Linked DNA regions of Homo sapiens: region 2 is linked to region 1. Evidence: fine-mapped expression QTL. A gene starts in region 1. The other region holds a variant in brackets. All regions are shown on one strand. Distances are between the middles of the regions. Region 1 holds the start of LINC02175 (long intergenic non-protein coding RNA 2175). Region 2 has its middle 15 kb from the start of ARHGAP17.

Evidence for each region. PIP is the estimated chance that this variant, and not a neighbour inherited with it, causes the effect. A credible set is the group of variants that fine-mapping cannot tell apart.
Region 2: its variant is the best candidate, but not a certain one, in a credible set for the expression of LINC02175 in cultured neurons (Aygun 2021, PIP 0.74).

The regions. Positions count from the first base shown.
Region 1 is chr16:25,063,670-25,068,902 of GRCh38, forward strand. It overlaps LINC02175 (long intergenic non-protein coding RNA 2175), which reads left to right and starts at 3,218. Exons shown (of 2, transcript NR_135197.1): 1 at 3,218-3,977; 2 at 4,110-5,233. RefSeq lists a silencer at 3,121-3,510.
Region 2 is chr16:25,027,158-25,032,645 of GRCh38, forward strand. It overlaps the pseudogene LCMT1P1. Among named protein-coding and RNA genes, the nearest start is that of ARHGAP17, 15 kb to the left of the region's middle. RefSeq lists an enhancer at 4,310-4,489. The variant C/T (reference allele first, on the strand shown) is at 2,458.

The DNA of each region.
Region 1 (5,233 bases):
TTTGGGCTTTGGCTGGGTGATTTGGGGGAGCTTCCACGATTCACTGTGTGAAAGCCTGTCCAGAAATCTCTCCTGCTACCCCTCCTGACCCTATATCAGGTTCACCTAACATGCAGTTCTACTGCAGACTCCATGCCTCTGCTCACGCTGTTTTCTTCTGCCGGGCAAACCCTTATCGATCTCTTTAAGGCTCACCTCCTCCACTGTGAAAAACAGAAAAGCAAAACTGACTTCTAGGAGCTTGCCTGGTGCTGTGAGCCAGGCCGTATGTTTTTGGAAGCTGGCTGGTGCCCACAACAAGGCCATGTTGTTCTCCTATTGGACATAAACAATCATGCAGACCACTCACACAAGGACACTCTGCAGTGGTGATGATAGGAGATGACACGAGACCACGTCATCATTCTGTGTAAGGACAAAAGCAAGGTCACTGTGCCACCCACAGAATACCAGACATTCCCTTCTCCCAGCTGATAGGAGTGACTGTGGCTTCTTTACACATTGTAGCTTTAGCCCTACTCCAGCCAAACCTCTTTCTAGAAAAGATACCGCTACCGGATGATAGAATTTTCCTACCTCCTATCAGCACTCGATCCAGAGCAAACCCCTGGACCCTCCCCCAAATCACCCAGCCAAAGCCCAGATCCTAAAGGTCTAACATCCTCTTACTGATAGGCTCCTCATGGTGTGAGTCTTCCCTCCTTGCAACAAGTAATAAACCCAACTTGCTTAACTACAAAGTGTTTCATGTGGTCTTTACTGGAGGACATTCACAACTGTAAGAGTAAAAAAGGATGGTTAAGTTTCTTGGGGAAGTTAAGGGAGTCTCATTCTGAGGGCTCCCATTTTCTATGTTAAGCAATAGGTGAAATTATCTTCTTTCTTTATTTTTTGAGATGAGGTCTCACTCTGTCACCCAGGCTGGAGCCCAGCAGCGTGAATATGGCTCAATGCAGCCTTGACCTCCTAGCCTCAAGTGGTCCTCCCACCTCAGCCTCCCATGGAACTGGGACCACAGGCTCTCATCACCATACCTGGCTAATTTATATATTTTTTTTGTAGAGATAGGGCCTTACCATCTTACCCAGGCTGGTCTCGAACCTCTGGCTCAAGCAATCCTCCCATCTTGGCCTCCCAAAGTGCTGGGATTACAGGCGTGAACCACTATGCCACAGTTGAGTTTAGAATGTTTATTTAAAATCTTGTGACACTGAACTCAATGACTAGTTCTCGGAAAACTTACTTTTTAATAGTGTATTGTGGTGTAAGGCCTGAAATTAGGATTCATATCAAATTCTGTCTTTACATCCATTTAAATCAAGAGGGCCTCAAATGGCTGAACTCCAAGCCTCGCTCCCTGTCTGCTTCCGCAGATGAAATTCTCTGGCTAAACACTCTCCTTATTTTAGGGATCAGACACAGAGCCTGCTTATCCCCAAACAGTAGGCTTCAGTTCCCTGCCAGCTCAAGGACGAATTATTCAGACAAGCCAGTCACACCCTCCCGTGGGAACCAGGGCTCACTCTGCACTTTTGTTACTACAAAGCCTGCCTCCAGCAGCCCCTCCTTGTTACCGTGTTCCGGAGTGTAGCCTCCACATTGCCCTGCATAGTGTGCAGGGTCCTTCTCCCCTGGACTGGAGTATCTGTGACCAGTCAGCTGCTGTTGATTGCATCCGTCCTGCATCAAGTGTTGTGTGTTCGGCCATCCCCGTATCTCTGGGGGTGGGGACAGGGGCGGGGGCAGGAGCGTGGGGGGAAGGAATCCCTCTTTCATCAATGGAGTAAAGAGTGTGAATAAAACGATTGGCATCACAAACAGTGTGGCCCATCCTTGATTGAGGACCCCTGGTTAGCTTTAACTAGCTGCTCCTTTACTAAGTAGCTGGTTTTGTTTGTTTGTTTATTTATTTATTTAGAGACGGAGTCTTGCTCTGTCTCCCGGGCTGGAGTGCAGTGGCGCGATCTCAGCTCACTGCAACCTCCTCCTCCCGGGTTCAAGCGATTCTCCTGCCCCAGCCTCCCAAGTAGCTAGGACTACAGGCGCCCACCACCACACCAGGCTAATTTTTGTATTTTTAGTAGAGACGGGGTTTCACCATACTGGCCAGGTTGGTCTTGAACTCCTAGACCTTGTGATCCACCCACTTCAGCCTCCCAAAGTGCTGGGATTACAGGAGTGAGCCACCGTGCCCGGCCTAAGTAGCTGGTTTTATAAGGCGGCCAGGACTATTGAGAACATCACTGCCAGTTGCTGGCCAGCTTGCCCTTCAGCTAATGAGTTTTGTTATCTCAGTAGGTGTTGCCACTTCTTCCCACCCTGACGAACGTTAATGGACTGTATCTCCTTGTGAGGTCCCATCAGGTGTGGCCCGTGTCGGCCAGGTGGTTTCCCAGGCTCCCACCTGGGGGCAGCAGCAACACGACATCCTAACGGGTGGGTGCCTGAGTTCCACTAGAGTGAGGCTAGACTCTGTGGTCTTTGGTCTAGCCTCATGACCATCGCTCCATCACCGGCTGCTTGGGACAGCCAGGCAGACACTGTTTGGGAAAGTGTTCCAGCATAGTCCTGTGGATAACCCTTTTTCCTTTCCCCAAACACCAGGGTTTTTGGAACCATCACCTGGGAAGATTTAGGAATGGCTCCCTGGTGGTCTCCTAACAGCCTAAAGACCCCATGGGCTTTTCTTGGCGGTGTTGCTTATCTGCATGCCAAAGGACCAATCCTGTGGGCAAGGGGCTCGATGGCCCCACCTGGACCCTAGACAAAATGAACGTACTAGGGGGATCCCAGCACTGAAGATTTGCCTGGCCTTCCTGGGGGAGCAGTATGGCCGCCCACGGAGCCGGCTGCTGGTCTCCCTTTCCCATAACCTCCCGGAAGATCCACACCACGAATGATCTGATGGGGACAAAAACCCCGGGACTCGAGGGACCGTTGCGGCGGACCCTTAAAACACCTGGCAATCCCATTAAATTGAAACATGGTACATATTTTGCTCTTCTAGTTTTGGCTAATACGTTCTATTTAAAGGGTCTCCCAGCCACAGTTTGCCAGCGGGCAGGCGGCGCCGCAGGAAGTGACCGGGCAAGAACGGGGGTCGCCGCCCAGCTCGGCCTTCTGGTCTCTGCGCCCTCGGCCTGGGGCTCCAGGCCACAAGGGGAGGCCGTGCTGGGCGGGCCCGAAGGGGGTGGGCGGGGCCCCGGAAGAGACGTGGGGGCGGGGCCAACGGACCGCGGAGGCGGAGCCGCTACAGTCTGGGCGCTGGAGCGGTGGGAGCAGCGCTCGTCCGCCGTTGGGGCCCCCAGCCCGCGCGCGTGAAGCAGCTAGCCGACCAAGCCCCGGAAGGCGAGTGCCGGAGGGGGCGGGACAGCTCCTCCGGGGCCAGCGGGCACCAGGCTTGGGGGCTGAGGCCCAGCGGCCCGAGACCAACTGGGCTGACCGAGGCCGCCTCCCCGCCAGCCCTGGGGTCCACTGCCCGGGGAGCAGCTCCCTTCCCAGGTCAGACTCGGGCTTCATCCTCTCTTGCCGCGCGCCGAGCGGTTTTCAACTCTCACTGCTAGAATTCCTCCAACCACCCAGGATAGCAGGACCGAGATACATGGCCACCCATGACCCGGAGCGTCCACTTCCAGGGACAGGCAGTGGTGATTGGCTTCGGTTGTCATCTGTGCCATCTGTCCATGGTTCGAGAAGCTGCTGTTCACGTTTTGGGGAGGATCATGGTTTGAGGGCTCCCGTGGTAGAATTTGGGGAGCTCTCATAGGCAGAAGGCTGAGAAAAGTTGGTGCTGTGGGAAGTCAACTGGCAGCCGATGGAGTCGGGACCCGGGAGGAATGGAAAGGGAACCCAGATAGGAAGCTACTGCAGTAGGCTCAGAGAGGTGATGACGGCAGGGCTAAGACAGCGGCCTTGGGCGGTGACTGGGAAGAACGTTGAACACCGTGTTTGGGCTGAAGAAAAGAGCAAGGGAAGAGGTGAGGAACTTCAGGTGAGGGTTGATGTAGATGTTACTTACACAGGTAACAGACATTCTTCACCTTTTCATTGTTTTACAATGATTCATTCTCTCTCTCTCTAACATATAATTGTGATATTTTCACCTGTAGTCCCAGCTGCTCTGGAGTTTGAGGCAGGAGGATGGCTTGAACCCAAGAGGTGGAGGCTGAAGTGAGCCAAGATCGCGCCACTGCACTCCAGCCTGGGCGACAGGGCAAAACCCTGTCTCTAAAAAGAACTTTTTAAAAAAGCACCTGTAGATTTAAGCACATAATAACTACACTTTTGTCTGTTTTATTATGATATCAAAGTTAAATTTATGATGAATGACTAACTGGACAAAACTGAGAGCAACCACCACAGAGGTGAATATACTGAATGTATAACACTCTCTAATAATTTTAAGAACTCCGCTCTAATGAGCAGATATCACAGAAAGAGACTTTTCAGATGAAATACCGATGACCAGGAAATCTGTGAGACCATTTTAAAAAATTCGAAGTCATTGAAGAAATGCAAAGCTTCCAGGCTCCACTTTTCACTGATGAAATTGGCAGAGTTTGGGACAATGAGATGTTGCTGTCCCGGGAGTGCGGATGGGGCTGTGTCCTGTGATGGCGGTGGGCACTGGCACTCTTGTCCAGAAAGACATTCACCACTGTGGTTCAAGAAGCACCTCAAAGGTCTTCACCTTGGTCCCTTGTCCACCTCTGCCCGCGGTCTCTCCTCCTTTCAGCCTCCTCTTTCCCACACAGTCCCTCCCGCCCTGGCTTGGTCCCCTTTCTTCTGACTGGGTCAGGCATGTGGGTGACTCTTTGACTTCCAAGGCTCTGTCTACTTGGCTTTTTTCTTTCACCTGTTCTGCAGAATAACAGCCTGATTCGTTCCTCTTTTTGGGTCCTTCACTTCCATACCTGGGATTCGGGGCGTGGCCCAGAAAGACCCTGCAGTCTTGCAGTGTGGGGCTGCCAGCATTTCATGGCCTCCAAGCTCAGCTGGGCTGAATGAACGCTGCCATCCAGCGCTTGGCTCATTTTCTGTCCCATTTTCCTGAGTGCTTTTGCCAGACTTACACTTTTCTGAAAGCTACTCCACCCTACCCCAGACACACCCTCTCTCCTCGGATGACCTGCCTCCTAATTTCCTGAGAAAACTGGACATGGCCACCTTTCCCCAGTGTCTGAGGCCCAGGTTGACCCGTGGTCATGGTCGCTGTCACCACCCACCTGCCTGT
Region 2 (5,488 bases), 36 kb before region 1:
AGGTGTGCACCACCACAGCTGGCTAATTTTTTGTATTTTTAGTAGAGACGGAGTTTCACCATGTTAGCCAGGCTGGTCTCGAACTCCTGACTTCAGGTGAACTGCCTTCCTCGGCCTAACAAAGTGCTGTGTCTCTCTCTCTCTTTCACACCCCCTTCATATCCAATGAACCAATGAATATATCACATTTTGTTCCTCTTTTCCCTGTCCCCATGTCTGTGGTCCATTCCTTCCTGTCCTTATATGGACTGGGGCAATTGACTCCTTACTGACCTTGCTGGTTCCACTCCTGGCCTCCCTTGAATCCATTCCCCACACCGCCATGAGGGTGGACTTTCTGGCATGAAAATCTGATAACGTTGCTTACCTACTTTAAATTATTTCAGGAGTTTCCACTGCCTGGAGTCCAAACTTTAACAGGGTATTTGAGGACTTGCCTTTAGAGCCTTGCTTTCTACTCATAGACCACCCTCCAGCCACGTGTCACTTCTTGCAAACCCCAAACAGACTATTACCCAAATAACTTTAAACCCATAAGCCTAATCATAGCAGGGTGATGCCTTCAACAAAGTTTGCACTAGAAACATTTTACTTTTATTTTATTTATTTATTTATTTTGAGACAGAGGCTCCCTCTGTCACCCAGGCTGGAGTGGAGTGGGGCACGATCTCAGCTCACTGCAGCCTCCACCTCCTGGGTTTAGCACCTAACCACGAGAAAGAGGACCACAGGGCGAGGTAGTCTTCAAAAACATGAGCTTTACAGATGTCCCCCAGGCTGGCCAATACAGGCAATTGAGGGACCTGTGTGGCACTGGCATAGGAATTGTGGGTCCCCGCTGAGGTGTGACTAATCGATGACTGTGGTGACAGGGAAACAGGAGTGGAGGTGTGAAGGGATGATGTGCATTTTCCACTTTGTAACTTAAATAAGAGTTCTTCCAGGAGCACGTATGCCTCTCGAGCCTGCTGCTTGGGGATATCAGAGAAGTGGAAGGTTCTATTAATGCCTTCTCCAAGAGCCCATGAGGCACTGTGGATTCTGAGATGTGAAATAAGTACCCTGATCACTACCAGTAATGTGTAGGACTTCCAAGAGTATATGGAGTGCCACAGTGAGACCTTATATTGTGGCCTTTGTATACGTAGATGTAGAGATATCTTTTTTTTTTTTTTTAATTGAGAGAGAGTCTCACTCTGTCGCCCAGGCTGGAGTGCAGTGATACAATCTCAGCTCACTGCAACCTCCACCTCCTGGGTTCAAGTGATTCTCATGCCTCAGCCTCCCAGGTAGCCAGCTAATTTTTGTATTCTTAGTAGAGACTGCCATGTTGGCCAGGCTAGTCTCGAACTCCTGACTTCAAGTGATCCTCCTGCCTTGGCCTCACGAAGTGCTGAGATTATAGGCATAAGCCACCACACCCGACCATTTTAAAAACATGAGTTATCTATTACCTCGGTTTATATTTTCAGTATTTATGAGGCAAGAGATTCCCAGAGTTCTTTATGAGCACAAAGGGAACAATTCTTAGACAATGGCCCAAGAGTTTGCTATAAATATGGAGATGGAGTCATTTGTTGGCTAGGGCATTGCTGTGGTCTGAATGTTTCTGTCTCCCTGAAACTCAAATGCTGAAATTTTAACTCCCAGTGTATTAGGATGTGGGGCTCTTGTGAAGCGATCAGGCCACGAGGGCAGAGTTATCATGAATGTGATTAGTGTCCTTATAAGAGAGACCTGAGAGAGACACCTCGCTCCTTTGACCAAGTGAGGATACAGCAAGACAGCATCATCTATGAGTCAGAAAGCAGGCCCTCACCAGACACAGAATCTGCCTTGACCTTGGACTTGCCAGCCTCCAGAACCATGATAAATAAATTTCCGTGGTTTATTTTTATGTATGTATATATGTATTTATTTTTTGAGACAGGGTCTCTCTCTGTCACCCAGGCTAGAGTGCAGTGGTGCAATCATAGTTCACTGTAGTCTTGAACTCCTAGACTCAAGTGATCCTCCCCATCTCAGCCCAGTCCCAAGGCTGGGACTACAGGTACACTCCACCATACCCAGCTAGTTTTTAAATTTTTTTGTAGAGATGGGGTTTCGCCACATTGCCCAGACTGGTCTTGAATTCCTGAGCTAAAGTGATCTTCCCACCTTAGTCTCCCAAAGTGCTGGGATTATAGGTATTAGCCACTGTGCCCAGCCATTCTTTTGTTTATAAGTCACTTAGTTTATGATATTTTGTTATAGCAGCCAAAATGGACTAAGATAGCCATTCAGTGCTTACTGCCTGAAGTGTAGCCACTTGGGCTGACAGTGTACCATGTTTCAATTTAGTGGGATTCCAGGTGGTTCTTCTTCTTCTTTTTCTTCTTCCTCTTCCTCTTCTTCTTCTTCTTCTTCTTTTTTGAGATGGAGTTTTGCTCTTGTCACCCAGGCTGGAGTCCAATGGCA[C/T]GGTCTCGGCTCACTGCAACCTCCACCTACTAGGTTCAAGTGATTCTCCTGCCTCAGTCTCCTGAGTACCTGGGATTACAGGCACCCGCCACCACACCTAGCTGATTTTTGTATTTTTAGTAGAGATGGGGTTTCAGCATGTTGACCAGGCTGGTCTCGAACTCTTGACCTCAGGTGAGCCGTGCACCTTGGCCTCCCAAAGTGCTGGGATTACAGGCATAAGCCACCGTGCCTGGCTGGATTCCAGGTGTTTTAAGGGTATCCCCACCCCTGTCCAAATTCCCTCAAGTTACAGGGTTTTTTTGTCATCAGATCACATGTGACTCTTCTCAGAGGTTATGAGGAAAGGGAGGCCAGCAGCCTGCTCTATGGGTAGCCATCCTCCTCCTCCAGAGAATGCCAGTCAATCTACTAGTGTCGTGGTCCACACCCAGTAAGTTCACTTTGTCTAGAGTCCAACTAACCAAATTTCCCTGAATTACCAGCTGTTTTGAATCAAGGCTCACCCAATAACAAAGGTGTGCCAATACATCTGCCTCCACCTTCTTCTAGTCACCTTCAGTCTCACCGTCCAGACCTGTGGGATTAACATCTTGTGCTACTTACTGTTTGACATTATCCACTAACACCCATGGAATTTAGACACTGCCAAGCTGGGAGACAATGCTTGCGCAGTGGTTTGTATTACCTTTTTGGTAGAGGAATGCTCCAACAAAATGGTGTATTTCAGCCCATTGCTGCTATCCCTGGCAAAACTTCCTAACCTCAGCCATTCCCCACTGTCATTTCTGCCTTGACTGTCAATGAGATCTTGTGTCTCCACTGAATACTAAGCAAGCATTTGCTATCTGATCTCACCCCAAGGTGTATATTCTGGGTTTCTGTTATTTTGCTTTAAAAAAAAAAAACTTATATAGAAAGGCAGTTTCATTGGCTCGTGGTTCTGCAGGCTTTACAGGAAGCATGGTGCTGGCGTCTGCTCAGCTTGTAGGCAGGGAAGCGAGAACATGCATATTTTACTTTCTGTGTCTGAGTTGTTTCACTTAAGATAATGGCCCCCAGTCGCAAGGATGTTGAGTTCTGCATGGCTGGGGAGGCCTCAGGAAACTTAACAGTTATGGTGGAAGGGGAAGCAGGTACATCTTACGTGGCGGCAGAAGAGAGAGAGCTATTTTGCTTTTTTAAATAGGTGTGATTCAAAGTTCTTAAAGTATACCCATTGCCTGTGTCCAACACCTGACAGATAATCAAGTGGAATACAGTAGCATAGTTCTTCTTTTATTTATAAAATATTTTATAACAAAACTAGTAAAAATAGATGCATCTTGAATATGCATCATAATGAAACAGACACACGTGAACTCACTCCCACCTGAGAAACTGAGAATGTGTCTATGTGCTCCTTCCCTGCCTCTCCCTACCCTCTCGTATGCTACCGTCCCACTCCCTAGAGGTCATCAATGTCCTGACTTTTTTTTTTTTCTCATGTCTTGGCTTTTCTGTACAGTATTTTACCGTATATGTATGTTTCTCTAAACAACATTAGTTTTACTTGGTTTGAACTTTACAAAAGTGTCGTTAGACTTCCTTCTTTCACTGAACATCACGTTTCTGAAATTCAGCCCTTGATGCTACCTGAGAGTTCGAGTTCATTGATTTTTACTGCCACGTGGTTTCCCATTCTATTACTTTTCCACACGCTACTTCCTTTACTACATTTCAAAGGCGATTATGTCTCTAAAGCTCTTAGCACAGTCCCTGGCATGGACAGCACTTAACAAAATTTTGTTAAACTGTTGAGTGACAACGAGCCCAGACTGAACGTAACAGCTGACATTTGCTTCTGGCTGGATTCTCTGCCCTTAAAATTCCGTGACGAGTCAGAAGAAACCTGGTGGCCTCTCCAGGCACCTAAGACTACACTTCCCAGAAAGCATCGCGGTACTCCGCCACTGACTTTTAGTTTCCTTTCTCCGTCGGCAAACTTCCGGGTTGGGTGGGCGGGGCCAAAAAACTTATCCAATGAGTACCTTTGTAGGCTGAGAGGAAGGGATAATTGCCCAATGAGCGACTAGGCAGAGGAGCCAATAGGCGGAGAGGCTGCTGGGGCAGCCGGCCTCCGGGGTGTCACTGAGCCGCGCCAGCTGAGCCAGGTGGAGCCCTACTTTCCTCTCCTGCTTTCTGCCTGTGACTAGCGCCGTCCCCTACCGCCCGTCGACCCCACTTCCATGTCTGGCGGACACAGCTCCCCGGAACCTCCACGCCCATGGCCACTAGACAGAGGGAGTCTTCCTTCACCTCCTGCTTTTCCACCTGGAATTGCGACGCGGGCGACGAGGGCGTGGGCTGCACCTGCGAAGATGCTTCCTTGTGCAAGAAGCGCCTGTCGGGCGCGGGATTCGGGGCTGGCATCTGGGACGCGGGCTGAGGTGGGAGGCGGGCCTGCATCTGAAGAATACGCTCGGAGGCTGGCAGGTTGCTGCCCCCGCCTCGCACGACCCTCGCTTCCCACCTGTGAAATGCACAGAACAGGGCTTCATTTATTTAACGAATCGTTTCTGAGCTCCTGCTGTGAGCCAGGCTTGGAGCAAGCCTGGGTACTGTGGATGGGAGCAGGCCCCTGAACCAGGCGGACGGGGTCTTGGCGTTCTCGGAGCTAAACGCTGCTAGAAAGACAAACATGATGCACCTAACTACTGTCTCCGTAGATTATGAGGATGAGAGGTGGAGGTTCTCTCTCTTTTAGGTATGATCCCCGTTGTGCACCTGAAACTCAGGCGATGACTTTCAGTGAAGGAAATGACCTGTCTAGGGCCACATAATACCTGTTTGAAAAGCCAGTACCACACTAAGTCTCCACTATTAAGGGTGTGATGGTGAGGGTGGGGTCGTAGGGAGCACAGGTATGTGTCAGAAAGAGAAAACATGAGGCTTGAGTGTCCTCCATTTATTCACTCATTCATTCTACAAAAATGGAGAGCTTACTTTGTGCCAGGGCCTTATTTGGGCTGGTTGGTGGGGATTCAGTAAT